Homo sapiens: one gene and its partners. The protein of the gene in region 4 purifies or fractionates together with the protein of the main gene of each other region. This does not show direct contact. Each region holds a gene or a part of one and is shown on either strand. Other genes may lie near its edges. The genes, in order: ANKRD13A, ODR4, DNPEP, LRRC3B and PKLR.

Evidence for each region.
Region 1: the proteins of LRRC3B (region 4) and ANKRD13A purify together in Homo sapiens (affinity purification with mass spectrometry; one large-scale study listed by BioGRID and IntAct). This does not show direct contact.
Region 2: the proteins of LRRC3B (region 4) and ODR4 purify together in Homo sapiens (affinity purification with mass spectrometry; one large-scale study listed by BioGRID and IntAct). This does not show direct contact.
Region 3: the proteins of LRRC3B (region 4) and DNPEP purify together in Homo sapiens (affinity purification with mass spectrometry; one large-scale study listed by BioGRID and IntAct). This does not show direct contact.
Region 5: the proteins of LRRC3B (region 4) and PKLR purify together in Homo sapiens (affinity purification with mass spectrometry; one large-scale study listed by BioGRID and IntAct). This does not show direct contact.

What each region holds. Positions count from the first base shown.
Region 1 is NC_000012.12:110,000,953-110,007,152, reverse strand, and holds part of ANKRD13A (ankyrin repeat domain-containing protein 13A), read right to left. Parts: intron 1-6,200. UniProt on the Homo sapiens protein: Ubiquitin-binding protein that specifically recognizes and binds 'Lys-63'-linked ubiquitin. Does not bind 'Lys-48'-linked ubiquitin.
Region 2 is NC_000001.11:186,391,381-186,397,580, reverse strand, and holds part of ODR4 (protein odr-4 homolog), read right to left. Parts: intron 5,886-6,200; coding exon 5,790-5,885; intron 3,635-5,789; coding exon 3,566-3,634; intron 1-3,565. UniProt on the Homo sapiens protein: May play a role in the trafficking of a subset of G-protein coupled receptors.
Region 3 is NC_000002.12:219,374,728-219,380,612, forward strand, and holds part of DNPEP (aspartyl aminopeptidase), read right to left. Parts: intron 296-5,885; coding exon 128-295; intron 1-127.
Region 4 is NC_000003.12:26,624,564-26,630,763, reverse strand, and holds part of LRRC3B (leucine-rich repeat-containing protein 3B precursor), read right to left. Parts: intron 6,119-6,200; exon of another isoform or gene 5,253-6,118; intron 1-5,252.
Region 5 is NC_000001.11:155,296,180-155,303,167, forward strand, and holds the start of PKLR (pyruvate kinase PKLR), read right to left. Parts: upstream 5,260-6,988; 5' UTR 5,217-5,259; coding exon 5,117-5,216; intron 4,774-5,116; exon of another isoform or gene 4,709-4,773; coding exon of another isoform or gene 4,702-4,708; intron 4,102-4,701; coding exon 3,919-4,101; intron 1-3,918. UniProt on the Homo sapiens protein: Pyruvate kinase that catalyzes the conversion of phosphoenolpyruvate to pyruvate with the synthesis of ATP, and which plays a key role in glycolysis.

The DNA of each region.
Region 1 (6,200 bases), on a different chromosome or scaffold from region 4:
TCTGAGGACTCACATTTCACGCTTGCCAATTTTAAAACGTACTACACAAAGCTACAGCAATCAAGACAACGTGGTACTGGCATAAGGACAGACATACAGGTCAATGGAATACAATTTAGAGTCCAGAAATAAACCCACACATTTATGGTCAATTGATTTTCAACAAGGGTGCCAAAATAATTCATTGGGAAAGAACTGTCCTTTCAACAAGTGCCGCTTGAACAACTGCATATCTACATGCAAAAGAACAAAATTTTGGCTGAGCTCATTGGCTCATCCCTATAATCCCAGCACTTTGGGAGGCCAAGGCGGGAGGATCACCTGAGGTAGGGAGTTCGAGATCAGCCTGATCAACATGGAGAAACTCCATCTCTACTAAAAATACAAAATTAGCCAGGCATGGTGGCGCATGCCTGTAATCCCAGCTACTCGGGAGGCTGAGGCAGGAAAATTGCTTGAACCTGGGAGGCGGAGGTTGTGGTAAGCCGAGATCACACCATTGCACTCCAGCCTAGGCAACAAGAGCGAAACTCCATCTCAAAAAAAAAAAGACAACCCATGGAATGGGAGAAAATATTTGCAAATCACATACTGATAAGGGCCTACTATCCAGAATATGCAAAGAACCTTTACAACTCAACAAGTCAAATAACTCAATTTTTAAATGGGCAAAGGATTTGAGATGACATTTCTCCAAGGAAGATACACAAATTGCCAATAAGCACATGAAAAGATGCTCAACATCATTAATCATAAGAGAAATGCGAATCAAAACCACAATGAGATGCCACTTCACACCCACTAGGATGCGTACAAACAAAACAACAGATAATACCAAGTGTTGACAAGGATGTGAAGAAACTGGAATCTCATACACTGCTGGTGGAAATGTAAAATAGTGCAGCCACTTCGAAAAATTGCTGGCAGTTCCGCAAAAAGTTAAAACATAGAGTAACTACATGACCCAGCAATTCCTCTCCAAGGTATATACCCAAGATAAATGAAAACATATACCCATACAAAAACTTATACATGGGGCTGGGTGCAGTGGCTCATGCCTGTAATCCCAGAACTTTGGGAGGCCAAGGTGGGCTGATCACTTGAGGTCAGGAGTTCAAGACCAGCCTGGCCAACATGGTGAAACCCCATCTCTACTAAAAATACAAAAATTAGCCAGGCGTGGTGGTGCACACCTGTAATCCCAGCTACTAGGGAGGCTGAGACAGGAGAATCGCTTAAACCCAGGAGGCAGAGGTTGCAGAGAGCTGAGATCATGCCACTGCACTCCAGCCTGGGCAACAAAGCAAGCTGTCTCAAAAAAAAGGAAACCCACAAAAACATATACACAAATACACACAGCAGCGTTACTCATAATAGCCAAAAAGTGGCGACAACCCAAATGTCCATCAACTGACAAACGGAGAAACATTTTCGTCTAACAAACAAAACATAGTACATCCATGCAATGGAATATATTCAGTGATAAAAAGGAATTAAGCACCTGAAACATGCCACAACGTAGATGAACCTCCAAAACATTATGCTAAGTAAAAGAAGAAACAAAAGGCCACATATGATTCTATTTATATGAAATGTCCAGAATAGGCAAATCTAGAGACAGGAAGTAGGTTAGCAGGTTGCCTGGGCTGGAGGGGTTGGGGAGAAATGAGGAGTGACTACTACAGGTATGGGGTTTCTTTTTCGGGTGAGGAAAATATTACAGGGTGGGTGCAGTGGCTAACACCTGTAATCTTAGCACTTTGGCAGGCCAAGGCAGGAGGACTGCTTGAGCCCAGTCTGGGCAACATAGGGACACATTTTCTCTACAAAAAAATCTTTAAAAATTAGCCAAGCGTGGTAGTGCTTGCTTGCAGTCCTAGCTATTTGGGAGGCTGAGGTGGGAGGATTGCTTAAGCCGAGAAGGTCAAGGGTGCAGTGAGCTGTGATGGTGCCAGCCTAGGCAAGAGAGTGAGACCCTGTCTCAAAAACAACAAAAAAACAAAAAAGAAAGAAAAAGAAAAAAATTTCTGAAATTTGACAGTAGTGATAGTTGCATAACTCAGCAGATATACTAAAAACCATTGAATAACCTTTAAATGTAGATTATATAAGTGAACTATATCGCAATAAAAATCTTTTGAAAAAATCAATCTGTATATGTTTATACATAATACATAAAACGAATCTCTCATGTACTGTTTGACAAGTTGCTTAATTCCTCCTGAGCTTCAGTTTGCTCGCTTGTAAAACTGAACAATAAAAAAAACCTACCTTACAGTTCTTACAAGGGGAAAGTCCTTAACTTAGCACGGTGCTTGACACCACAGTAAGTGCTGAGAAGAGTTACCTGTTATTATCATACGCCCACACTATGTAGTTTCATATAGCTGTCACTTTCTCCCTAAAAGGGATTTGCTCAAATTGCATTACAGTTATTAGTGGGGCTTAGAATCTTCAACTAATAATATGAGTTCAGAGAACAAGGAGTTTCAGAATTTAGCTGGAATTCACTTTTTCTTTTGAGACAGAGTCTCCCTCTTGTTGCCCAGGCTGGAGTGCAATGGTGCAATCTTAGCTCACCGAGATCTTGGCTCACTGCAACCTCTGCCTCCCAGGTTCAAGCAATTCTCCTGCCTCAGCCTCCCGGGTAGCTGGGATTACAGGCATGCACCACCACGCCTGGCTAATTTTGTATTTTTAGTAGAGACGGGGTTTCTCTGTGTTGGTCAGGTTGGTCTCGAACTCCCGACCTCAGGTGATCCGCCCACCTCGGCCTCCCAAAGTGCTGGGATTACAGGCCTGAGCCACCACGCCCGGCTGGAATTCACTTTCGAAACTGATCATTTAGGTTTTCCTTTTAAGTTTCTTTAGCCATGAGCTATACCCAAATAAAAATACCCATCCTCCTTTAACTAGGAGTTTCCTTCCTATTTGCTCATTTCAGCTCATCCACTTTTCTTGCTCAAAAGCCTTAAAAAAAATTTATTTTTTTTTTGAGATGGAGTCTCATACTGTTGCCGGGCCTAGAGTGCAATGGTGCGATTTTGGCTCACTGCAACCTCCGCCTCCCAGGTTCAAGCGATTCTCCCACCTCAGCCTCCCAAGTAGCTGGGATTACAAGCACCCGCCACCATGCCCAGCTAATTTTTCATATTTTTAGCAAAGATGGGGTTTCACTATGTTGGCCAGGCTAGTCTTGAACTCCTGACCTCATGATCCACCTGCCTTGGCCTCCCAAAGAGCTGGGAGTACAGGCGTGAGCCACCGTGCCCAGCCAAAAAAAATTTTTTTTTAAGGAGACGGAGTCTTACTATATTGGCCAGGCTGGTCTTGAACTCCTGTCCTCAAGCACTGACCCCACCTCAGCCTCCTCAATCAAAAGCCCTCTTTACTATCTTGCCATCCTCCTGCCGAGCTCTGAGGCCAGGCTGCAGAACCAGACAACTGGACACCCCTTCCAGCTTGCCCACTAGCCTCAGGTGAATTATCAGTTCCCCTGTGCCTTGGTACCTGGCATGCAGGAAGTGCTTCATAAACTCACTGTCACCTTTAGGGGGACTCCAGCAAGAGGCTGCTGGCTAGTCCTCCTCTCTCTCAACACAGACAACCACCCTCACTCCTCTTCACTCTCAGACCATCCTGGTCCTGTGTGGCCCCCACGCTGAGTCAGTGGAAACAGGAATCTTGAGGCCAGTTTCCTAAGGTGAGCTTGAACCCCCGATGACCAAGGGGGCACATGAGGAGAGCAGGCTCTAGGCTCTTCATCTTGGATGCCTAGCCCATGGCTCAGCGATTTGAATCTGTGCCCGGGGCCTCACCTGGCCTGCCCCAGGCTGGAGTGAGAACCCCAGGAATGTCCTCCTCTTACCTAGGTGCTATACTTTTCACCTGCTGGCTTCCTAAACAGGGAGCCTGGCTCTAGAGTCAGGCCTCATTTGCCACCCTCCACCTCACACAACCCAGGTTTTCCAACCCTGTCTAAGGTACACTGACTCACCTTTGCATCTGTCCCCTTAAGTGTTCATGTCTCACCATCAGTAAGAAGGCCAAAGAAGTTTAACAGACTTCTTTAGCTAAGCGGCCAACGACATAAGCAGAACACAAACAGTTTCAACTTCAGCAACCAACTTCAAGGCCCCACTGAATATTAATGAGCTGATGGGTTAAGAGGCACTTTATTAAATGCCTCTGCTGATCAAATGAAGGCCTGAAACAATCTGGTAGTTGGCATAGTTACACAACTGCCTGCTATTAGTGAGACAGTGGGATTGGGGCTGGCTCACACACACAGAAACACGTGCTTATCCTCTTCATCTGGATAAACTTGATTCTTTCTTGTGTTGCTGTTCCTGGAACAGGAACAAAAAACCTGGAAAAAAATTCTTACAGCTATCAGTATACATGCTCCAAGTCTCAATCAGGTGATAGACGGAATGAGGAAACTGACAGCAGAAACTCACCAGCAAACAAAACATTAAGGGAAACAGCCACTTTATTGCTGGGGTGATAAGAATTTTTTGGGTTTTTTTTGTTTTTTGAGTCGGAGCCTCGCTCTGTCTCCCAGCCTGGAGTGCAGTGGCACGATCTTGGCTCACTGCAACCTCAGCCTCCTGGATTCAAGCGATTCTCCTGCCTCAACCTCCTGAGTAGCTGGGATTACAAGCACGTGCCACCACATCCAGCTATTTTTGTATTTTTAGTAGAGACGGGGTTTCACCGTGTTGGTCAGGCTGGTCTCCAACTCCTGACCTCAGGCGATCTGCCTGCCTCAGCCTCCCAAAGTGCTGAGATTCCAGGCATGAGCCACCGTGCCCGGACTTAAGAATTTTTTGTTTTTAATTATGCAATCAATACATCTTCCTTGCAGAAAAACTGGAATATAGAGCAAAAAAGCTCAATCCCCAGGTTTACAAATGATGATTATAATAGCAGCAGCTACTAGTAAATATTGTTTCCAATTACCATATGCCTGCACTTTCAGGTCCATTATCTTCCTTATTTATTCTCCATAATCTTGAAATGAAGTCATTTTTACTGAAAGAAGTATAGTAGGGGTTAAGAATACAGGATTTGGGCAAGGCACAGTGGCTCATGCCTGTAATCCCAGCACTTTGGGAGGCTGAGGCGGGCAGATCACTTGAGTACAAGAGTTCAAGACCAGCCTGGGCACCAAAAGAAGTAGATTCCTAAAAACCAAAACTGGTCATTTTTAAAGTGTCCTAGCTGAGTCTTACAGTTTTTACCTCTGTACCATGTCTAGTAATAGAAAAGGAATTAAATGATCAGTATACTAAAATGCCTAATGGTGAATCATTTAGTCTGAGGGCATGTGTCATATCTCCTTAACTCTTAAATAGTTGGTCTGTCATCTAATTAAGAACGATGACTCTCACAAAAGTTTATCGTATCTGGAATTCTTTTTAAATGAAAAAAGGCCGGCAACAGTGGCTCATGCCTGTAATCCCAGCACTTTGGGAGGTAGAGGTGGGCGGATTGCTTGAGGCCAGGGGTTGAAACCAGCATGGCCAACATGACAAAATACCACCTCCACTAAAAATACAAAAATTAGCCTGTAATCCCAGCTACTGAGGAGGCTGAGGCAGGAGAATCGCTGGAACCCGGGAGGCGAAGGTTGCAGTGACCTGAGATCGCGCCACTGCACTCAAGTCTGAATGACAGAGCGAGACTCCATCTCAAAAAGAAAAAAAAAAAAAAAGAAACAGAAAAGAAAAGAGGGTAATTTTGGACTTCGGTGAGGGCTCAACCACCTTAAATATGGCAGGTTGCAAGCACACAGCTTGCAGCACCCATTCACCAAATGGAGTAATGCTAACCTTCTCAATTTTTGTCAACCATAAGACAAACAATCCTCCTCTTCCTCTACAATTTCTTGACAATTATAGCACCAATTTTGAGCCATTCAAAAACCAGGTCTGTAAGACACTGGATAAAATGTATGAAGTCAACAAGAACAACCATACTAGATTTCAGGGGTAATCACAAATCCTCATCCTAACTGCTAAGTTTGTTAGCTTGAAACTTGAGGGCACCAATACCTCCCAGAATTGTTGGGAGACTTTAAAAGCAGAGTTTCTCAGCCAGGCGTGGTGGCTCACACCTGTAATCCCAGCACTTTGGGAGGCTGAGGCGGGCGGATCACCTGAGGTCGGGAGTTTGAGACCAGCCTGACCAACATGGAG
Region 2 (6,200 bases), on a different chromosome or scaffold from region 4:
AGATTTTTGGCTTAGAGATGCTCAACTGGTATGTATTCTGCAAATATTACAAAATCTAAAAAAAATCCCAAACCCAAAACACTTCTGGTCCTAAGCATTTCAAATAAGGCACACTCAACCTGTAATAGAGGCCTATAATAACAGTGGAAACAAAAAATAATGATTTACAAAAAATAACCAAAAAATGGAAATGGTAAGGAAGTAATTTATGTTCTAAGAACACTTGGAGTATAAGTCATTCAACAACCAAATCAATTCTGAAGAACAAAAGTCAAATCATACAACTTGTGAAAAGTGCTTTGTGCCTATGTGCTTATGCAATCAGGAATAAATGCGGAAAAATAATGAAGAGGAGAATACTGACATGCATAGCTATTGAAAGAGCATTATTGATGTCTAGTGTAATTCAAGCAATGTCTAAGGCAATGTAAATCTTCTAGGTGTTGTTAAACAATTTAAACTTTAAGATGGTCAAGGACTTGTTGACAAAAAATTTGCCACAGACCACACAGCTCCAAAGGTCCTGGGTCCATTCAAAAATGGCTATCATCAAACCAAGCAGCAGTGTGACGATGCTGATACAATGTCTGGAATAAGCTTCCATATGACACATGTAGAGTTCATTGATACATCAATAAGGTGGGGTTGGAGGAGGAGTAACAGGCTTCCCCTATCTACTCCATAACTTTTTATTGTAGACAAAACTACTCTAAAAAGAATGTCCTATTTTACATATTTAACATATAATTTATATATTTTTAACATATAACACATTTATATATTAGTATATGTAAATATATGTGTATGTGTGTATATACATATATCTATCTATCTATCTATCTATCTATCTATCTATCTATAATTATGGCATTGTTATCCAAAACAGACTAGACTATTAAAGACTATACACACACATATTAAAGAAAAGAGGTATTTTTTTGGTTGGTTGGTTAGTTTTATTTTGTTTTGTTTGAGGCAGGGTCTTGTTCTGTCATCCAGCCTAGAGTACAGTGATGCTATCAGAGCTCACTGCAGCCTCAAGCTCCTAGGCTCAATCGATCCTCCCACCTTCGCCTCCCAAGTAGCTGGGACTACAGGCACACACCATCACCCCCAGCTAATTTTTGTATTTTTTTGTAGAGACAGGGTTTCACTTGTTGCTCAGACTCATCTTGAACTCCTAGGCTCAAGCGATCACCCTGCCTAGGCCTCCCAAAGTGCTGGGATTACAGGCATGAGCTACCATGCTCAGCCAGGAAAAGTTTTAAAGAATGTAAGGTCTGACTCATTCCTTTTAGGTGGAAATGTAGACCAGTTGGGGTCTACAAATGTAAACTCCTCTTGGTTATTTGGACTTAGGAATAACCTGGCTGCCAAACAGCCTATAGGTGAGGGAACTTCTATGATGCTGACATGGCATTTGAAAAAGAGAAGATCCCCATTTCTATGGGAACCAAATGAAATCTTACACAAGTAGTGGCATTTGGGCTAGATCTTAATGTACAGATAGGATTTTGACAGTTTGGGTGACAGAGAAAAGAGCAAAGACATGATACATAGTTCAGGAAATACAGAGCTTTAAAGGTATGGCAAGCATACATCTAGAAAATAAGAGGTAGAAAATAAGAACAAAAAGGTATGCTGAGGCTATGAAGAACCCTGAGTTGGACTTCTCTAACTAGTCAGTACAGAACACTTAAGAAATTTTGAGCAAGGAGTACCATAATCAGTGTCCGGCTGTTGTACAAACTCAATAAATACTTCTTGAAAAAAATTAATAACTGAACATAAACTATGATTCAGAAATGATCATCTGAGTGTATAAACAGGATAGAGTAGATAAATGGAAAGTATTTCAAGAGATATACTAACAAAGGTAGAAGGGATTTAGAGAAACAATCACTTTGGACAAGAATGTATAGATGAAGAGAGACCAGTTAAGGGCTACTTGTGCTAGTTTAGGTAAAATAATACTGTTGTAAGGCTAATGACAGCAGGACTGTATGGAAAATAAAAGAAAAGCTTAATACTACAAATAAGGAATCAATAAGACTTAACTGGGAGAAAAGTGGCAATAAATACTTACTGACTACTTACTGTATATTAGTCACTTCAAAATTTCCAGTTAGGTGATCGGTGGAGTGACTACCAAAAATATATTATACTATATAATATTATTACTACACCTGGCCAGGCGCGGTGGCTCACGCCTGTAATCCCAGCACTTTGGGAGGCCGAGGCAGGCGGATCATATGGTCAGGAGATTGAGACCACCCTGGCTAACACAGTGAAACCCGTCTCTACTAAAAATACAAAAAATTAGCCAGGTGTGGTGGCAGGCGCCTGTAGTCCCAGCTACTCAGGAGGCTGAGGCAGGAGAATGGCGTGAACCCAGGAGGCAGAGCTTGCAGTGAGCCGAGATCGCACCACTGCACTCCAGCCTGGGAGACAGAGCGAGACTCCGTCTCAAAAATAACAATAATATTACTACTACAATAAATTATCTCATGAGATTATCTTCCACTCATCTCTCTATATTCCCACACTCTATACATCTCCCAACTACAATTTTATACTACTAATAAAATAATCTTAACCAAATTGTTTAATAAACCATGAAGTAAGCCTAACTAGTGAAAAGCACATAAGTAGTGGAATAGCCAGCCTCAAAACAAAGGACACTTCTAAAATCAAGACAAAGTAGAAAATCAGAGACTAAAATACCTCTAAGGTATTGAAAAATGAAATTGAGAACTCACATTGAGTGGCATAGGCCCAAAGACAATTTACTAATGCGCTATTGCTACACACAGAAAAAGAAGAAACTAAAACATCCTCAAATGCCAAATTGCTTTTAATTCTATTCTATTCAGTTCAAAAAAACACAAGTCCTGAGAGTATTTCTGTTTCAAAATCCAGTATAATATTGAAATAAAGTTTCCTACAAACACGCGTTTGCTATTTTATACCCTTGTCTGTTCTTTAGGATAATTTCAAGTAGGATTAAAATCAAAGGTATGTATTTTTAGGAATAATTAGTGGCTTTAACTTTTTATTCTTTAAGATATCCAACTTTTAAATTTTCGAAAAGACGTGTAAATTAAAGCAACCATACATAAATATAAAACTTGCTAATTAATACTTTGTGATTTTTATCAAATCAGGGGGTATAAATCTAATTAATCTACTTCAAAATAAGCATATGACAACTCTTTGCACCTCTGTGTACACATCTTTTAAGTTGTTAAAATTGCAACTTTAACTATAAAAGCTACAACCCAAAATATGTACACATACATACATGTATATGTATGCATGTATGTGTACATATTTTTTTAAACTGCTATCTATTGATGTTAAAATTTTAATATCCTTGAGGCAAAAAACCCAAACAGGTTTTATTAAAATGATGTTTCTTGGGAATAACCTTCCTATAACCAGCCATTTCATACAGTCTCTTACAGCTCTAAAATCCTTTTATTCTCTAATGAGAAAAATAAAAACAGAAACAGTTTCATTATGGTTATGCTAATAAATATTTTAAGTGTTATTTTAAAATATTTACCAACTGCGTTAGCACTCTGACATCAAAAGAATGACTAGTTGCTTGAGTATTTCCTCTAGAAGATTTTTTCTGAAAAAACACAAAAGTTAAAAAGCCAAACTGTGAAGCCTGTAAAACATAAAAGACAACTTATAAACTATTGTACATATACTAAGTAACTTAGAAAAAAACAAGTCTTTTAATTATTTTAATTTAGCTTTTTATATAGATATTACTTTATGTATTCTGTATCAATGTACACTCTTTAAAACAATTAATTCCATACTTTCATTCCTCTAAAGCAACAACTGGCAAACCACTGCCTGTGGGCAAATACCCACATTGCCACTCATCTTTGTAAATAAAGTTTTACCGGTATGCAACCAGGATCATTCACTTATGTATCTCCTGTAGCTGCTTTCATGCTACACAGTAGAGATAAAAATACAGCCTGTGAAATCTAAATATGTAGTATTTTTCTCTTCACATAAAGTTTGCTGATCCCTGCTTTAAAAAGTGAGAGATCACAAAAGTTCCGCTTCCTTCAGGTCAAAGCTATTTTAGAAGCCTCTATAAACCTCTTTTATAAAATGGCCATAGCTTTTGAACTGTCATCAGGGCAGAACAACATGTGGCCTTTGGTTGCAGGTCAGCAGTTTACAATTTGGAAATCAGATGAAATTCAGATGACACTCCTGTAAAGTTTCAGGATTCCAATTACATCATTTTCTTTTTTTTCCTGGACTTATTTTTTAACTTTTAAGTTCATGAGTACATGTGCAGATTTGTTACACAGATAAACTTCAGTCATGGGGGTTTGATATACGGATTATTTCATCACCCAGGTATTAAACCTAGTACCCATTATTTATTTTTCCTGATCCTCTCCTTCTCCCTCCTTTTAGTGTGTGTTTTTCCCCTCTATGTGTCCATGTGTTTTCATCATTTGGCTCCCACTTATAAGTCAGAACATACGGTATTTGGTTTTCTGTTCCTCTGTTAGTTTTCTTCTTTTCCTTTTCTTTTATTTTGAAATGGAGTCTTACTCTGTAGCCAAAGGCTGGAGTGCAGTGGCACGATCTCGGCTCAATGCAACCTCCACCTCCCAGGTTCAAGCCATTCTTCTGCCTCAGCACCCCGAGTAGCTTGTGCTTACAGGCACCTGCCACCACACCCGGCTAATTTTTGTTATTTTTAGTAGAGACAGGGTTTCACCATGCTGACCAGGCTGGTCTTGAACTCCTGACCTCAAGTGATCTGCCCACCTTGGCCCCTCAAAGTGCTGGGATTACAGGCATGAGCCACCACGCCTGGCCCCTGCCTCCCAAGTAGCTGCAATTACAGGCACCTGCCACCAATGCCCAGCTAACTTTTGTATTTTTAGTAGACACAGGGTTTCACCATGTTGACCAGGCTGGTCTCAAACTCCTGACCTCAAGTGACCCACCCACCTCGGCCCCCCAAAGTGCTGGGATTACAGACATGAGCCACCATGCCTGGCCCCTGCATTCGTTTTCTAAGGATAAAGGCCTCCAGCTCCATCCATGTTCCTGCAAAGGACATGATCTCGTTCTGTTTTAATGGCTGCACAGTATTCCATGGTGTATATGTACCACATTTTCATTATCTAGTCTGTCATTGATGGGCATTTAGGTTGATTCCATGTCTTTGCTATTGTGAATAGTGCTGCAATGAACATAATGCATGCATGTGTCTTTACAATAAAACAATTTATATTCCTTTGAGGGTATAGCCAGTAATAGGATTGCTGGGTCAAATGGTATCTCTGTTTTTAGGTCTTTGAGGAATCAACACACTGCCTTCCACAATGGTTGAACTTATTTATACTCCCACCAACGGTTTATAAGCATTCCTTTTTCTCTGCAGCCTTGCCAGCATCTGTTATTTTTTGACTTTTTAATAACAGCGATTCTGACTGGTGTGAGATGGTATCTCATTGTGGTTTTCATTTGTGTTTCTCTACCGATAGTAATGCTGAGTTTTTTTTCATACGATTCTTGGCTGCATGTATGTCTTCTTTTGAAAAGTGTCTGTTCATATCCTCTGCCTACTTTTTAATGAGGTTGTTTTTCTAAGAAAAACATTTGCCTTTTACTTTAAATCAGAAATCAGAAATGAGAGGTAGATGAAATCAGTTTTCTTGTAGGCAAGGACTAAAAATAAGTCATGTTTTATTTTTCCTTAAGCACTAACAATTTAATAAGATGATTTTCTCTTAACTTACCTGTCCTTCTAATAGGTCACAATCTTCATCTTTAACTTGTCCATTAATCAAATAAACACCATTTTCTATTTCCTTGGCCCAGCGTGTAAGTCCATTCTTAACAGAAACACAACATGGAAATCTTTCAGATACAATGCCATCTCAATTAAACTTCCTATAATCTACTTTGTTCCACCTAATAAATTGAAATATTAAAATCCCTAAATCTCATTACTGCAGCATTTAAATCTAGTTTCACAAATTAAAAAAAAGTATACCCCCATTCTTGATACCTTATTATATTTAATAATAGTTATTTTCTGATCTTTATCCCAGAATAACATTTATGTCACAGACTCAGGAGGTTATTAAGTACATGATCAGTTAAATAAAATTTAATGCCCACTACCTTAAAAAAAAAAGTGAGAAAAA
Region 3 (5,885 bases), on a different chromosome or scaffold from region 4:
CAGCATGACAACCAGCCCCCATTACTCAGGCCAGTCACTTTGTGATGGCGATGTTGTCCCAGCAACCAATCCAGGCACTAGAGGGGAAGCAGCCCAGCTGCCAGAGAGGGTCTGGGGTGGGTGTTACCTTGAAGAGGGTGAGGGTCTGGAGGACTCCTGTGGTGCAGGCCATCTCCCGGATAGAGTGCATGGCCAGTTGGGGGCTGCCTAAATCCAGCACCCGCAGCCCCAGCCGAGAAGCCAAGATAGGTCCAATGGTGGTTCCACAGGGGGTGTCATTCCGGACCATGAGATCCTAGGGAGAGCAGGAGACCCATGAGCAACATGCAGTGTGTGCTTATCAGAGCCAAGGAGGACGCCATCTTAGAATTGCAGGGTGGGAAGGGGCCTGGGAGATGGTCCATTCGGAGCATAAAATCAAAGCCAATGCTAAATGGCAGACCCCAAAGGACAATATATTCTGAATTGGTCCCATTCTATCTGCATTGCCACCACCCTAGTTCCAATCCATTCTCCACACAGCAGGAAGGGGGATTTTTAAAAGTATCCATCCTTGTCACCCTCTTGCTTAATATCCACACTCACAGAAAAAAATCACTCAGTGGTATCAGTGTCTTTAAAAATATTGCTACTGACATTTTGAAATGATTTTCTTTATATTATGGTAAAAAAATAAGAAAATGAAAATATGATGCTAGATATCAAGGTTTTCAGTGTAAGAGAAAACAGAATTACAAAATCAAATAGGTAGTAACTATTTAACTAAATAAGAATAATTTTATGAATAAGAATTACAGTATTAACTCATGATTTTTATTTAAAAATTTTTATTTTATTTTATTTATTTATTTTGAGATGGAGTCTCCCTGCGATGCCCAGGCTGGAGTGCAGTGGCGCAATCTCAGCTCGCTGCAACCTCTGCCTCCTGGGTTCAAGCGATTCTCCTGTCTCAGCCTCCCAAGTAGCTGGGATTACAGGCACGCACCACCACGTTCAGCTAATTATTGTATTTTCAGTAGAGACGAGATTTTGCCATATTGGCCAGGCTGTTCTCGAACTTCTGACTTCAAGTGATCCACTACCTCTCAAAGTGCTGGGATTACAGGCCTGAGCTACCACACCTGGCTTCATGATTTTTAAAATATGTACTTTTTTCTTGCTATGTCCATGGAAATGGACCCAAAGCACCGTCCCCTCCCCCAAGAACAATGAACACTTGCAGTGCCAGGCTATGGTCTCTAATACCACTGCTTGCCAAAAACTACCAAGTCTGGGGGGCGAAATGAACAAGACATGTCTACAATTTTTGTTGTGCCAAAAAGCAAGGAGACTTCCAAGAGTCAAAGGGCACAGGAGTTATGCTGAAGGGGCTCCCACTGGTCAAAGCCATGGCAATTCACAAATCAAATATAATAATTATAGAGGACACTGAATAAATGAAATTCCATGATTCTAAGATAGTCAGAAAGGGAAAAGCAGGCCAGGTGTGCTGGCTCACGCCTGTAATCCCAGCACTTTGGGAGGCCAAGGTGTGCAGATCACATGATTCCAGGAGTTCAAGACCAGCCTGGCCAACATGGTGAAACCCTGTATCTATTAAAAATACAAGAAACAGCCGGGCATGGTGGTGCATGCCTGTAATCCCAGCTACTCAGGTGGCTGAGGTATGAGACTCTCTTGCACCTGTGGGGAGGAGGTTGCAGTGAGCTGAGATTGCGACACTACACTCCAGCCTGGGCAACAGAGCGAGACCCTGTCTAAAAAAAAAAAAAGAAAAAGAAAAAAAAAGGAAAAGGAAAAATCTTTCTTTGTCACTATTTGAGACGACATTTCACCTTGAAAAGTGGATAACAGAAAGAATTAGCATTTATCCTGCTTTCCAATCAATAGGAATGATATTCCATGATAACCAAAGAACCCTAGTTGATTGGAGGGAAGAAGTTCCACTTCACAGAAGAATGGAAGACTGAAAGAATTCAGGGGAAGCGGGCATTTTTCGGTAAATTCTAATGAAATTACTGATTTAGACAAGGATTATTGTAAGTGTTAAAACCATTAGGTATCTGGTTAATAGGGAACTCATCACTTGTATGGGTCACTGTCAGGTCAATAGGGGAAAAGCACTATATAATGAAAGGATAAGAGGCCATTCCTGGTCCAGTGGTCAATCTTTGCAAGGCTAAGGGTGGCCCACCCAGATATCATGTGTGTGATGCCATATGAATACACCAGCCATGTCTTCTAGCCCAAAATGTTTAACTTGAGGCTAGGCACGGTGGCTCACACCTGTAATCCCAGCACTTTGGGAGGCTGAGGTGGGCGGACCACTTGAGGTCAGGAGTTCAAGACCAGTCTGGCCAATATGGTGAAACCCTGTCTCTACTAAAAATACAAAAATTAGCTGGGCATCGTGGTGCACACTTGTAATCCCAGCTACTTTGGAGGCTGAGACAGAAGGATCACTTGAACCAGGGAGGCGGAGGTTGCAATGAGCCGAGATCACGCCATTAGACTCCAGCCTGGGCGACAGAGTGAAACTCTCACTCTGTCAAAAAAAAAAAAAAAAAAAAAAAAAAAAGTTTAACTTGAATCCATCAAGTCTTTAGAAATTCCAGTTGATAGGAAATACGGGGCTTACAGACAAGCTAAATGACACCATGGGGCAGCAAGGAGACATATCCAGAAGTTTCTTGAATAAGCCAATGCTATTTAAAAAGGGGTGGGGGGAACTGTGCTACACTGGAAGACATTTAAGCAACATATCAGCCAAATATAACGCATTGTCCTGAGTTGGATACTAGGGTGGGCCAAATACCTGTAAAAAAAATATTTTGAGGATAACTGGGGAAAACGGAAAGTGATCTGTGCATTAGATGAGGTACAAGTTTACTGAAACAACAATTTCCTGAAATGGGGTTGGGAATGGTGGCTCATGCCTGTAATCCTAGCACTTTGGGAGGCCAAGGTGGGAGGACTGCTTGAAGCCAGGAGTTCAAGACCAGCCTGGGCAACATAGCAAGAACCCCATTTTTACTAAAAATAGAAAATTAGCCAGCATGGTGGCATGCATCTGTAGTCCCAGCTACTTGGGAGACTGAGGCAGGAAGATCTTCTGAGCTCAGGAGTTTGAGGGTGCAGTGAGCTATGATCATGCCACTGCACTCCAGCCTGGGAGACAAAGCAAGACCCTGTTTCTAATTTTAAAAAAACATTAAAAAAAAAAACCAAACTCAAATAGAAAGGTGAAGATGACTGAGTGAAAAGAGGCAACAAAAATATATCCAATATAATATCATTTTAAAAAAGTGTATATGAAGTTTATGCATAGAAAAAAATCTGGAAGACTATACCAAATTTCTGCAGATTAGTGTTTTATTTTCTCATCTCTATCTGTATTTTCTAATTTTCTAAAATACATGTGTCCTACTTCTGCTGTAAATTATTAAAGAAAAATCTCCCAATGTCTTCTCACTGCCTTAGAATAAAATTGAAATGTCCTTCCATGGCCTAGGTATTCCTGTATCATCACTGAGCTGGGCCTCTCCCCTAACCCTCTCCTGCTCTCATCCTGGCTCTACCATCCTGCCTTTCTCTCCTCCTAAAAGACGAGCTCATTCCTGGCCCCCCTTGGGGCCTTTCTACTTGTGCCCTCTGGCTGGGACCCTCCCATAGCTGCCTATTTCTCAGTGGTTAGGTCTCAGCTCAAATATCACGTCCTCAGAGAAGGCTTCCTGGGGGCAGAACAATTCAGCTTTCCGAAAGGAAGAGTGAACACTGTGCAGCAGAAAGAGCCCTGGGCTGGGAGTCAGGATACCACGGTTCTACACCTGCTATGATTGTCACTGGACCGCCCATGCCTGAGTCCCTGATATAGAGAGGTAGACAGATAAATATAGAAATAGACAGTCATGCACTACATGGTGACATTTCAGTCAAAGATAGACTACATATGACAGTGGTCCCGTAAGATTATAATGGAGCTGAAAAATTCCTGTCGCCTAGTGACATCACAGCTGTTGCGATGTTGTGGCATAATGCATGACTCACTTGTTTGTGGCGATGCCGGCGTAAATAAATCTACTGCCAGTCGTATAAAAGCATAACACGTGCAATTATGTACAGTATGCAATACCTAAGAATAATAAATGACTATGTTATGGTTTATGTGTTTACTATATTATGCTTTTTATTGTTATTTATTTATTTTGAGATGGAGTTTCACTCTTGTCGCCCAGGCTGGAGTGCAATGGCACCATCTTGGCTCCCTGCAACCTCTGCCTCTTGGGTTCAAGCGATTCTCCTGTCTCAGCCTCCTGAGTAGCTGGGATTACAGGCGCACACCACCATGCCCAGATAATTTTTGTATTTTCAGTAGAGACGGGGTTTCACCATGTTGGCCAGCTGGTTTTGAACTCCTGACCTCAAGTGATCCACCCGCCTCGGCCTCCCAAAGTGCTGGGATTACAGGCATGAGCCACGATGCCCAGCCTACTGTTATTTTAGAATGTACTCCTACTTATTAGAAAAAAAAAAAAAAGTTAACTGTAAAACAGCCTCAGGCAGGTCCTTTAGGAGCACATTGTTATCATGGTAGATAGCAGCTCCCTGCATGTCACTCTCCCTGAAGACCTTCCAGTGAGACAAGATGTGGAGGTGGAAGACAGGGACATTGATAATCCTGACCCTGTATAGGCCTAGGCTAATGTGTATGTTTGTGTCTTGGTTTTTAACCAAAAAGTTTAAAAATTTTAAAAATAACGAAAAATTTTAAAAATAGAAAAAAGCTTACAGAATAAGGATACAAAAAAGAAAATACTTTTGAATAGCTGTACTATGTGTTTGTGTTTTAAGCCAACTGTTGTTACAAAGGAGTCAAAAATTTTAAAAATGGAAGGTTATAAAGTAAAAAAGTTGGCCGGGTGCAGTGGCTCACACCTGTAATCCCAACACTTTGGGAGGCCGAGGCGGGCGGATCACAAGGTCAGGAGTTCGAGACCAGCCTGACCAACATGGTGAAACCCCGTCTCTACTAAAAATACAAAAATTAGCCAGGCATGGTGGTGCGTGCCTGTAATCCCAGCTATTCAGGAGGCTGAGGCAGAATCGCTTGAACCTGGGAGGCAGAGGTTGCAGTGAGCCGAGATCGTGCCACTGCACTCCAGCCTGGGTGACAGAGTGAGACTCCATCTCAAAAATAAATAAATAAATAAATAAATAAATAAAGTTAAAAAGTTACAGTAAACTAATTTATTGTTGAAGAAATACAATTTTCAAAATAAATGTAGTGTAGCCTAAGTGTCCGGCATTGATAAAGTCTGCAATAGTGTACAGTAATGTCCTAGGCCTTCACATTAACTCACCACTCACCCAGGGCAACTTCGAGTGCCGTAAGCTCCATTCCTAAGTGCCCTATACAGGTGGACCATTTTAAATCTTTTATACCATATGCTTCCTGTAACTTTTCTTTTTCTTTTCTTTTTTTTTTTTTTTTGGTTTTGTTTTTTTGGAGACAGGGTCTCACTCTGTCGCCCAGGCTGGAGTGCAATGGCACGATCTCGGCTCACTGCAACGTCCACCTCCCGGGCTCAAGAGATCCTTCCCAAGTAGGGAAGGCCTCCCAAGTAGCTGGGACTACAGGCATGCACCACTCCGCCTGCCTAATTTTTGTATTTTTTGGTAGGATGGGGTTTCACCATGTTGGCCAGGCTGGTTTTGAACTCCTGACCTCAAGTGATCTGCCTGTCTTGGCCTCCCAAAATGCTGGGATTACAGGTGTGAGCCAACACGCCTGGCCTTCTGTACCTTTTCTATGTTTAGATACACTGACCATTTTGTTACAGTTACCTACAGTTTTCAGCACAGTAAGAAGCCGTACAGGTTTGTAG
Region 4 (6,200 bases):
CAAGGCATCCACCAATAGAATTCAAGGCATCCATGAACTTGCATGGAAAAAAAAGTCGCAACTTTGTTTGTGAAGCTTAAATGGCAATGTACCATCTCATTCCCATTTGAACACAGGCCATAAACCTCAATAGTAGCCATACTAGTGATTATGTCACCAATATAAATATTTTCATATCACAATACAGCTGCCACAGTTATCTCATAGTAGCATTTATGCCCATTCCTACTTCGAAACAATAGTAGCCACTAGTCCCACTACAAGATCTTGTTATAGAGGCATTATTATGTAAGAGGCACATATATTAGTAACAGTGGTTTCTTTTATAAGTCGATAAACAGATATTTCAATAAAATTGGTTTGTGCTATAATCTTATGTATTATATTTTATGCATTTAAACACCATTCCAGGGCCCGCAGGCTTTGTCAGACTGTCAAAGGGCACTATGGAGTAAATCAGAGTAGAAGACCTTGGCCTGGAGATTGATAAAGCCACATTAATGTGGCACTCTGATATGTGAGAAAGAGACCTTGCCCTCTGGCTGGGGAGCTAGGCTGCCTTTGAACTGATCTATGCTATGAGGTATTATTTAGTACATTCCTCTTCCTTATAAGCCCTCTTCTTTCAGTCTTTATTACTCCCATTCTCTTTTTTTTGTCTTCTCTTATTCTTATGGGATTTTTTTTTCCCCTTATCCTTTGGTTTAGGTTTACTATCAGATATCTCTTAGTCTTACTGTGCTAAGTATTGGGTTCTCTTCCTTTGGATAGATTTTTTTTTTTTTTTTTTTTGCCATGCTTCTCTTACACCTCTTTCTCTCCTGCCCCCACCTTTCCCACCTTTCTCTGCTGTTGTCTGCTGCCAATTGCTTGGCCCTCCTGACTTGGCTGGCCACACACCATACCCCTTTCACAGGTTTTGTAGCAGAAACATTGGGTATCAACAGTCCACAGTACATCTTCCCTTTGGGAATCATTTTCAGTTTACTAACAGACACTGTTTCTGAGCCACAGTTAAAATAACAAACTAGCCACCCCAATAAAAAACCACACAACACATAGCAGCAGGAAAATAAAAACTTTGAAACCCTAAGCTTAAATATAATTGTGGAAAGGGTGAAAAGTATTCCACTTAATAATCCCTGATGGCCAGACATCTAGAGAAGATCAGCAGCCTGGACCAGGACTCTTCTCAGTGTATAAATTCCCAGTGCAGCATAGGGAAAGCATACTGCTTAGTCACCGCTAACAGGGGGAGCCCTCTGTAGCAGGCCTATACAATGATTATTTCTCCAAATCAGAGCTCAGGTTAGAAGACTCAGGGGAAAGCCATGAGACCTCATGACCTTTGTGCTTTAGCTTTAGAGAACTATGCACTGTGCCTTCAGCACTGTCCTCGCCAGAGGACGTATTTGTCCTGAAATATTATAGCAGTCTCTCCCAGTAAGTTACTGAATACTTCTTCTATCAATGACCTAAAATTGGAAGGAAGAAGGGAAGAAAGGAAGAAAGGAAGGAAGGGAGGAAGAGTGGGAGGGAGTGAGGGAGGGAAGGAAGGAAGGACGCAGGGAGGGAGGGGGAGGGGTAGAGGAGGAAAAGAGAATAAAAGGAAACTAATCTGTATTTGAAAACATACTTACCACTTTGTCAAATATTACTCCATGGTTGAGAATAGCTTCACATTTTTAAATAATATTTGTTTCCATTTTATTTCTAATAAAAGGCACCTAAAGCATTTTTTAAACTGTCTGAAAAGGTAGTGACATTTGCACTGGACAAGTATTAACATAAAAGGTAGCTTAGAGAGCTTAGGATCAAATGAAACTGTAAATTTCATAACCTTTCCTAATCTGTTCATTTATCCTCCTAAAGAATAAAATCTGTTTTTATTTGTGGAGGATTTTTTTTTTTTTTTTTTAGTATTTACTCATTTATCTATTTTGAAAGAACTAAATGGCCCTTACTATTAACTTACCACCTGTGGTGGAGAAATAGTATGTTCAAGCCTATCAGCTTTTGAGAAGATTCCAGATTTCATTCTCATATGAAATGGCCATTTCATATGTCATTATCATGTTGAGATGTATTAATTCACTAAGTTTTTATAAAGTATATGTAGATATATACTAACATCTCAGAGCTTCCATCATGGCTCCAAACCATTTATCAAATAAAGTTCATCAAAGTCACAATCTTCAGATAATAAAATGAATACAAAATTTATTAATCTTATGGATTATTCAAATCTAAATATAGATTAAGATATTTTATATTTTTTTAAATAAAATCAATAAGGGTAAAGCTTCTCAGGTCCTACTCTGAGCTTTTTTTTTTTTTTTTCCAGTATCTTCTTCAAACTCTTTCTACAGAACCTTATTATTTAGCTTCTCTTGCTATTAAAATTAATCAAGATCAGATATTCCGAATCTTGATTATTTTTTTTCAAATATCTTACCCAAGACTTTTAACTCATACTATGTATTGTATAAACATATCTATTCATTGTGTTCTGAATAAAAGTTTTTATTTTTCCATATCCTTTGTCTTAGAGCATATTGCTTAATAATAATTGTTATTCTAAATGTCAATGAACTCATATTTATATGATTTAAGATAAAGGTACACCCCAAAGAATCTCCCCAGCAGACGTGTCATGTGGGACTTTTGATATTGCACCACCTAGCAGCCACAGTAAAATAAGTAGAGGGGATTGGACCACATAAGTAAGATGAGGATAGAGCTCCCCTGAATAAACTGGGAATTGGAAACCAGAATGTCTGCCCAGGTTCCAAAGGATTCCCCTTCCTGTGGTTCCTAGGACATAGACCATTTCTTTTGGATATTGTCACACTTAACTTCAGTGTTATGTCTCTTTTCTTTAACACTGCTGCAACTCAACTAAGCCGGTATCCCCACCTCCAGAAGGTCACCCTTCTGGATGATCTGGTTTTGAATGGCTCTTCCTGAAGAGTGGGGCAGCTGTGCAAGTTTTTCCTACTTGCATAAAAACAAAATTGACTTCTAATGAATTCTCCGGAAAATGAATGCTTCTCCTTGAGATAACTGGGGTCTTGGGGATTCAGAACAGTCAACCTGACACAAAACGCAGACTGAGGTCGAGGGTAGGAAAAAAAGGAAGAGGAGGAGCAGCTCTTAGTGCACGTTGGCTCTCTGTGGGCATTTTGGTCACACTTGGGTGCCTCAGCAGCCAAGCCTCACCTCCATCTTCCTCCACCTCATCCCTCCTCTGACAATATTGTTGCCTCACTCTCTTCTTTTCTTCCTCCACTATAGGATGGCCTAGGTCCTCACTATAGGATGGCCTAGGTCCTAGTGTGCCACAGCATTAGAGATGGAAATCCTATTCCAGGTGACCTAAAAGGCACCAGGTTTCCACTATCTGTCTATGACTCTTGCCCCGCTGATCTGATTCTGAAAAACAGGATTCTTCTATCCCTCCTCCCTGTTTACCCTGGCTGACTTTTTGTTGGTTTGTCTCCAAGGGGAGGACATCCTGGTACTACAGCTACAGAGAAAAGACATGAGGTGTTCTTGGAAACTAGAACTTTGTCCCACAAAAACGCTTAAAGGTATATGAAATCCTCAAGTGACTGCAGAAAGTCCCCTTTGTTGAAGGGGCCAGGTAGGCGAGGAAGTGGCAAATATTATCGGAAGTGACAAAGAACTATTTTTCCTCTTTCTGAGCCCCAAGTACAGAAATATATTGTTTTGCCTCAGCTTTACATCAGCATAAACTTTAATGAAAAGTCAAGAATCCAGGAGAAATCCAAGAATTTATGCCACTGTATTCAAAAGAATGTTTCCTGTGATAGGAAAAATTCCCTGTTATTTTCACAAATACCTGGGAGTGCAGAAGGATGAAGCAACTCAATCTAACAGAAGACTGCTAAAATCATTAGAAATCATTTAATCTTATTTAGAATCATCCAGAGGTTTGCATAGTTAATTTTTGTTGATTTGAAGGCTTACAAATATTCTGCAATGTTTTATTTTTGCAAAAAGAGTCACATTTGTGGTAGCTTATTCATTATATATGATATAGAGTTTTTCTGGTTATGCTGATTGAGAAGCATTTATACGAAAATAAGCAAAACAGTCTTTTTAAAAATAAAAAGCCTTTTCCTAATTAATTTTAAGATGTTAAAAAAACAGCAGGAGTGAGCATAATTTATTTATGTATAATGGTACCATATTTGAGCAAGGGTCAAAAGGCAGTGGTTCCAGCATTAGTTATGCTACAAATGCACCAAATGGCCTTGAGCTCAGCATTGAATCTCCTCCCTGAGTCTGGATTGGGTGGGATAATATCTGAGATCCCTCTTAGCTCTAACTAATTATGTGACTCAATTCAGAGAGAGGCTTTCATTTGCAGAATACAACTGCTACATAAAACTGCCTCTAGTTTTTGACTACAGAGCAAATCTCTGTTCATATTTGGATCCCTCCTTCCATTTACCTTCCTATTTAAAAAGGGAATGTCTACAAAAGGTTCAGAAGAGAAGTCCATTACCAGTAGCCAGTTCTCCAAATCGATTTCCTCTACTAGTATTCCACTATACCAAGGTGTACCCCAACAAACTTTGAGACAGGCGATATGTAACATCAGTCTCCCTAATACTCTAGTCACAGGGGCTCACAGGCCAGGACTGGCACTTATAGTACGCCGCTGCAGTTTGGAGTAAAGGGTGAGGGGCCTCACTCATGCTTCCTTCCAGACAAATGGTTTTTAGTACCAAATAGGGCTGGGAGTATGGGACACACTCAGTGTTCTCTGATCACCAGACCACTCAGCCCCACCATTTCCTGGCTGAATGTCAATAAGCAAATAACTTGAATTCTTCAATACTGGGTTTCTCCATCTATAACATGAGATAAATAACTCTACCCATTTTTCAGGGTTGTTGTGAGGGTTAAATCTAACACAAACACACACAACATCAAAGATAGTGTCTGGCACATAGTAAGAACTCCACAACTGCTAGCTAGCACTGATTGTTACATTACTATTTGTCTCCCCAGAACAGTTCAGCAACCTGAAATAAATCCACCTTGGTGTGGATTTGGAGTCTTTCCTCAAGTTGCCAAGGAACATGGTCTAATTTGTTTCTACATGCAAAAAGAAGTGGCCAGAGCGCAAATTCAGGCGATAGATAAGCACCCAGAAAGAAATGAGCCTTGGGGGGGTCAGAGCTAAATCTCGTGGAGTGCGAGTTTCAAGTCTAGGATCCTACCTCAGGTATCCAGGTACTTCTGAAGAAGCCCGGCTCTCTCACCAGGCCTGGTCTGTGAGGGTGTGGCCTTTGTGCTCAGGAGCTGCACCAGGAGCCTGCGCACAGGGAATCCCCGTTCTGCTCCTTGGGGCTCTGGAGTTTGCCACCGCTAGGCAGGGAGCTAGCTGCTCCAGGGGTGCCCCAGAATGGGAGGGACTGACCTCGGGATTTCTCCCGGGAGCCCTGGCGAGTCGACGTTTCCTCCGATGTGGCCAAGGCGAGGGACCCAGAAAAAGGAACTGCTCTGAATTTTGCTTTTTCCCAACTGGTACAAGGCAGCAGGAGTCCTCTGTAGGGCACCCGCGGAGAAAGTAAGAAAAGCCTGCACGTGGAAGGTCTGAACAGGGAGGACCTAAAGGTTGTACAGGGTTCCAAACCCACCCAACCTCCAAATGTTTCCCTATAGGGCTACTAGGAACCAGGGATCCACTCTCAGCCAAAGGCACCTCTGGGAGAGGAGCATGCACCTCCTCAGGGAGAGAAGGGTTAAGTGAGGTGCTTACTGGCCTTGGCAGTCACTGTGCCCCCACCAGGAAATAGGGGGCTTGATGGATAAAAGGGAGGGGAGGCTGCCTCTTCGAAACAGCCGACTAAGCCCCCTCCCGCAAACGGTCTTGCACTCCAGATTGCTGGGGTGCAAAGGAGAAAAGAGCCTCCCCCTCCTGCATTCGCCAGAGCATCTGGAGCCACAAGAAGAATCTACCTGGGAGCTGCAAGGTGGGCAGATCCACCTCTGTCTGGGCTCCCAGGTCTAAGAGCTGGGTCTCCCCTCACCCGAGGCCCACACCTCCTAGCTCTGCGTTTCCCTGCACGCCCTCCAGCTCTGCGCTCCCCAGCCTCCCGGGCGCAGCACAGGGCTCCCCCCACTCCCTCGCTCCGCCCAGGTGCGATTTGTGGAGGGGCGGGGGA
Region 5 (6,988 bases), on a different chromosome or scaffold from region 4:
ACTGCTATGGGGCAGCTGCTAGCCGAGAGCAGGTTGGCTCATTCTTCGGTCCCTATCTGTCTTTCCACTTGTGCACTAGGTCTCCTCCTTCTCACCTGCTCAAGGACATAAATTAAGCCATTCTGTGGTCCTCTGTGACACCCATGTTTTCCTTTTCTTTTTCTTTCTTTTTTTTTGAGACGGGGGGAGTTTCACTCTTGTCGCCCAGGCTGGAGTGCAGTGGCACCATCTCAGCTCACTGCAACCTCTGCCTCCCCAGTTCAAGTGATTATCCTGCTTCAGCCTCCTGAGTAGCTGGGATTACAGGTGTGCACCACCACGCCTGGCTAATTTTTTTGTATTTTTAGTAGAGAAGGGGTTTCACCATGCTGGCCAGGTTGGTCTTGAACTCTTGACCTCAGGTGATCCATCCACCTCGCCCTCCCAAAATGCTGGGATTACAGGTGTGAGTCACCGTGCCCAGCCATGTTTTCCTTTTTTACTGGATCATCCCCATCCGCAGGTAAACCTACTGTTATTTCTTTCATCATTAAAAAAAAATTCTCTTAATCTCCTGGTTTCCCCTCAGTCCCAGTATTTGCTCTCACTTGCAGCAAAACTCATCGCAAGAGTTATCTGTACTTGCTACCTCTAGTTCCCCTCCCCCATTCTCCCTTGAACCCACCCCACTCAGGCGTTGGCCTCCATCTCTCCACTGCATCTGTTCTTGTCAAGGTCACCAAGAACCTCTGTGTTTTTGCTCCATGTAATGCTCAATGCTCAGTCCTCCTCTATTGGCCCATCAGCAGCCTGAACATACATCCTTCTTTGACACACTGTCTTCACCTGACCTCCAGGGCTGCACCCTCTCTTGGTTGACTCCTACCTCACTAGCTGCTCTTTCCCAGTCTCCTTTCCTTGTTCCTCCCCTTAACGTTAGATACCCTGTTCTCTTCTCCGTCATTTCACCTACACTCCTTTGGTGGTCTCAACTAGTCTCATGGCTTGAGATACCATCTATATGTAGCCAACTCCCAAATGTCTCTCCAATCCAGACCTTTCTCCCAAACCCAGAGTTGTGTACCTGACTGCCCCCTCTATCACATTTGGATGGCTAATAAGCATCTCAGACTCAACATGTCCCAAGCAAACTTCTGCTCTCCCCCCAACCCCTTCCACCACAGTCTTTCCTGCTCAGTGGCTAATGCATCGTTCCAGTTCCTTATGGCAAAAACCTCAGAGTCACCTGTCACCTTTGACTCCTTTCTTTCTCGCCCACACTCCATACCCCATATCCGATCAATTAGCAAATCCTGTCAGCTCTACCTGCAAAATACATTCAGAATCTGACCACTTCTCACCACCTCACTGCCGCCAACTGGTCTGAGCCAGAAATACTGCAGGGGCACCCTTCCCCCCACCCCCCATCTATTTTCAGTGCAGCAGCAGGGGAGGGGAGGCTCTATTAAAACATAAATAAGAGCTTGTCATTCCCCTGCTCAAAACCCTGCAGCAGTTTCTCATTTCACTCGGAGGAAAACGCAACTCAAATTCTAAAAATGGCCTACAAAGCTGCACCTGATCTTCCTGTCCGTACACAGTCTCTTCATGTCTGCCGCTCTTCCCCCTTGATGGTTTCTAGCTCTTCTAACCTTCTTGACTTAGGCCTTGACACTGACTGATCCTTCTTCCTGGAATTCTCTTCCCCCAGGTCTCTGCATGGCTAATTCTCTCATCTCCTTCAAGTCTTCCCTTTGGTCTCATTTACTCAATAATAACTGACCTCCCTATTTAGGGCTGCAACCTGTCTTCACCCTCGTACTCCTGATGCCCTTATCACACTTGATTTCTTTCCCCATAGCACTTAAAACTTTCACTTTTTCTTTCTTTTCTTTTCTTTTTTTTTTAGATGGAATCTCGCTCTGTCACCAGGCTGGAGGACAGAGGTGCGATCTCTGCTCCCTGCCTTCCAGTTCAAGTGATTCTCCTGCCTCAGCCTTCCGAGTAGCTGGGACTACAGGCATGTGCCACCACGCCCAGCTAATTTTTGTATTTTTATTAGAGACGGGGTTTCACCATGTTGGCCAGGATGGTATCGATCTCTTGACCTCGTGATCAGTCTGCCTCGGCCTCCCAAAGTGCTGGGATTACAGGCATGAAACACCACGCCTGGCCTTTTTTTTTTTTGAGACGGAGTTTCGCTCTTGTTGCCCAGGCTGGGGTGCAATGGCACGATCTTGGCTCACCGCAACCTCCGCCTCCCAGGTTCAAGCAATTCTCCTGCCTTAGCCTCCTGAGTAGCTGGGATTACAGGCATGCACCACCATGCCCGGATAATTTTTTGTATTTTTAGTAGAGACGGGGTTTCTCCATGTTGAGGCTGGTCTCGAACTCCTGACCTCAGGTGATCCGCCCGCCTCGGCCTCCCAAAGTGCTGGGATTACAGGCGTGAGCCACCGCGCCCAGCTTTTTTTTCTTTTTTTAAAAACAAACAAACAAACAAACAGAGTTTCGCTCTTGTTGCCCAAACTGGAGTGCAATGGCGTGATCTTGGCTCACTGCAATCTCTGTCTCCCGGGTTCAAGCGATTCCCCTGCCTCAGCCTCCCGAGTAGCTGGGATTATAGGCACATGCCACCATGCCTGGCTAATTTTTTGTATTTTTAGTAGAAACAGAGTTTCACCACATTAGCCAGGCTGGTCTCGGACCCCTGACCTCAGGTGATCCACCTGCCTCAGCCTCCCAAAGTGCTGGGATTATAGGCAAGAGCCACCATGCCCGGCCAACTTTCACTCCTTTCTTTCTTTCTTTCTTTCTTTCTTTCTTTCTTTCTTTCTTTCTTTCTTTCTTTCTTTCTTTCTTTCTTTCTTTCTTTCTCTTTCTTTCTTTCTTTCCTTCCTTCCTTCCTTCCTTCTTTCTTTTCTTTCTTTCTTTCTTGCCTGCTTGCTTTCTTTCCTTCCTTCCTTCCCTCCCTCCCTCCCTCCTTCCTTCCTTCCTTCTTTCTCTCTCTCTTTCTTTCTTTCTTTCCTTCTTTCTTTCTTTCTCTCTTTCTCTCTAGGGTCTCGTCTGTCACCTAGGCTGGAGTACAGTGGCTCGATCATGACTCACTGCAGCCGTGACCTCCTGGGCTTAAGTGATCCTCCCACCTCAGCCTCCTGAGTAGCTGGGACTACAGGCATGCACCACCACACTCAACTAAGTTTTGTATTTTTTGTAGAGATGGGTTTTGCCATTTACCCAGACTGGTCTCAAACTCCTGGGCTCAAGCGATCTGCCAACCTTGGCCTCCTAAAGTGCTGGGATTACAGGCATGAGCCACTGAGCCCAGCCCACTTTTTTTTTTTTTTTTTTTTTTTTTTTTTTGTGAGATGGAGTTTTTCTCCTGTTGCCCAGGCTGGAATGCAATGGTGTGATCTCGGCTCACCACAGTCTCCGCCTCCTGGGTTCAAGCGATTCTCCTGCCTCAGCCTCCTGAGTAGCTGGGATTGCAGGCACGCACCACCATGCCCGGCTAATTTTGTATTTTTAGTAGAGACGGGGTTTCTCCATGTTGGTCAGGCTAGTCTCGAACTCCTGACCTCAAGTGATCTGCCCACCTGGGCCTCCCAACATGCTGCGATTACAGGCATGAGCCACCATGCCCGGCCTCACTTTCTAACGGAATAAATAATTTACTTATTTTAAATAATTTATTGTGCTTACTATTTATTGTCATACTCAGCTAGACTGTCAGCTCCCCAAGGGTAGGGATTTTTGTCTGTTTTTTTCACTGATCTACTCCCAGGGCCCAAAATCTTGTCTACTATATGCTCAACAAATTTTTGTTAAATGAATGACTGTGTCAAACATGGAGAAGTCTCAAAGGAGACAAAAGATGAAGAAGCACCTCAAGAAATACCAATAGGCCCTGTGTGGCTGCAGGGGGATGGGAGTGCTTACCGATGGTGGCAATGATGCTGGTACTGCGAGCAGCCACGGGCTCGGAGTCAATGTCCAGTAGGCAGAGGTGTTCCAGGAAGGTGTCTGCCATAGCAGCTGGCAGCTGCTGCTGCTGGAAGAAGGCAGTGCCCAGCTCCTGGGTCAGTTGGGCCACACTGGCCCGCCGCAGATACCCCGCTGGCCCTGTGGTAGAAGGGGGCTCAGGGACTGCATGTCACCTGCCCTTCCTCCCCATGCCTTCGTCTCTCAGCATACCCTCTGTTCCTTCCCTTCTTATGAGCTGGGCATCATGCATATATTATTTTATTATGTCACAAGGATCCTATAAAGCAGGTACTGTTAAATGTTCTATAATTATCCAATTTTATGGATAAAGAAACAGAGGCTGAGAAACAGGAAATAAATGGTCCAATATTATACAGCTTCTAAGTATGGATCAGCTAGGATTCAAATCTAGGTCTGACTAACTCTAGCCCAAGTTCTTGACCACTCAGTTATACTGACCCCGCACAACCCAGGACCCCCCGACCTGCAGCTACTGATGACCCTCAACCCCACCACCCCTTGATGTCTAGTCCCCAGCAGCCTCACCCTATGCAGACCCAGAATCACCCAGTTCCTGCTCCAAAGGTCTCTGTTTTCTCCCTTCCAACCCCTGGCTACTGGCTGGCTTCCCCACCCCATCCTCTGAGTCTCCCCAGGCTTCTCAAAGCTGCTACAGACACAGAGGTCCCTGTAGCTTGACCCATCCCAGTTCAGAGGAGCCCCCGATTCCAGCCGCACCTTCCATGCCACTGCACACCTCTCTGGGTCTCCCTCTCTGTGGGTCTGCTCCACACTGTTGGGTTGTCAGAGGCATGAGGCCCAGCTGGGCTGGGGATCAGTTCTGCAGACTGGTTAAAGTGTCACCACTGTCTCCTGTTCCATTGGAAGCCCTGTATGCCAGGGGCCAGAGTCCAGGAACCACGGGAGTGCCCCGTGGCTTACATGCTGTGGCTCTGGCCTGCCTATAGGGCCTGGAAAAGACCCAGGCCAGGGTCCATAATTTAACACACGGGAGGCTCTGAAGAACGTACGTTCCTCTCCAAAACCCACCTAGCCAGTGGCTGATGTGGATCATTTATGCCCTCCACCCTGGCTCCTAGTTTTCACCCTCATTTTCCTCCTATGTTCCATGGCTTCTGTCTCCCCTTCTTACCTCCTGGAGCCCCAATCAGGATGGACTTTGCTAAGTCTCTTTGGGACTTAGAGACCCATGACCGAAGCTGCAGGGATGATATGTTCTCCTGGATCGACATGCTTTCAGTGTGGGCCTGGGGCTGCGGGACCATGGAATGAGAGGGAGAGGATGACAAAACTGCTGGTCTTATCTAAGGGAGACAGAGAAGAGAAAAGGGGCACACCCAGTAGGCCACCCTGTCCCCACAGAATCCCTCCCCCAGAACGGCCTGCTCTCTGCCCTCATCTCCTGGCATTTCCTCTCATCCTTTTTTCCTGATAAATTTTCAATCCATTCATACTATCTGGTCATCCACGTGAATAGATATTTTTTTTTTGGCCAGTCATATGGCCCCATTTTCTTTGTACTTTACTGAAGTTAGCTCTAGTGAATCCAGGGAGCAGGGGCTGTAGGGTGGGGCTGGAGCCTGAAGAAAGACAAAAGGGATCACTGTGATAATATGGTGGGGGGAGGGTTACCCAGTTCTGACCACTTTTTTTCTCTGTCTCAACCAAGAAATGCAGAGTGCCTTCACCACTCTGTAACCTGGCCAGCTGCATGTTTTCGCCTACATGTTTGAACCCAAGATGGTACCTTGAACATTCTCAGACACTGATAAACTTGATTAGGTTGTTGCTGGAAACACTGAAAGATCGACTATTTTGCTAAACTTATAGACTCCTACCCCCAGGGAAATTTTCTTTCCTCCCTCCCTTCCTTCCTTTTTTCTTTTTCTTTTTTCTTTTTTTTCTTTTTTTTTTCACAGAGTCTCACTCTGTCGCCCAGGCTGGAGTGCAGTGGCGCAATCTCAGTTCATTGCAACCTCTGCGATCCTCCTGCCTCAGCCTACCGAGTAGCTGGGATTACAGACGTGCACCACCACACCCAGCTAATTTTGTTTTTCTTTTTTCTTTTCTTTTCTTTTTTTTTTTTTTTTTGAGACTGAGTCTGACTCTGTTGCCCAGGTTGGAGTGCAGTGGCGTGATCTTGGCTCACTGCAACTTCTGCCTCCTGGGTTCAAGCGATTATCCTGTCTCAGCCTCCTGAGTAGCTGGGATTACAGGCATGCACCACCACGCCTGGCTAATTTTTGTATTTTTAGTAGAGACGGGGTTTCACCATGTTGGTCAGGCTGGTCTCGAACTCCTGACCTCAGGTGATCTGCCCGCCACAGCTTCCCAAAGTGCTGGGATTACAGGTGTGAGCCACTGTGCCTGGCCTAATTTTTGTATTTTTAGTAAAGATGGGGTTTCACCATGTTGTCCAGGCTGGTCTCCAACTCCTGGCCTCAAGTATCCACCAGCCTCGGCCTCTCAAACTGGTGGGATTACAGGTGTGAGCCATCATGCCCAGCCTTGTTTTCTTTCTTTTTTTTTTAAAGGGTCTCACTCTGTCACCCTGGCTGGAGTGCACTCGTGTGATCATGGCTCACTGTAGCCTTGACTTCCTGGGCTCCAACGATCCTCCCACCTCAGCCTCCCAAGTAGCCAGTACTACAGGTGTGCACCACCATGCCTGGCTACTTTTTAAATTTTTATTTATTAAAAATATTTTTTTCCTTTCTTTCCACAGGTGCTGACTTTTTATTTTTGTAGAGACTGGTGTCACTCTGTTGCCCAGGTTGGTCTTGAACACCTATGCTCAAGTGGTCCTCCTGCCTTGGTCTCCCAAAATGCCAGGATTACAAGTGTGAGCCATAGTACTGGCTTCAAATTTCTTAAACACTCCTATAAACACCATACCCCGAACCCCTCCTTGAGAACATACCTGGGTAGAACACCCTTTGTCCCATTGTCCACAGCAAGGATGTGCAGTAGCTGTTCTGTAGGTAAGTTCCCCTAATGTATGCTT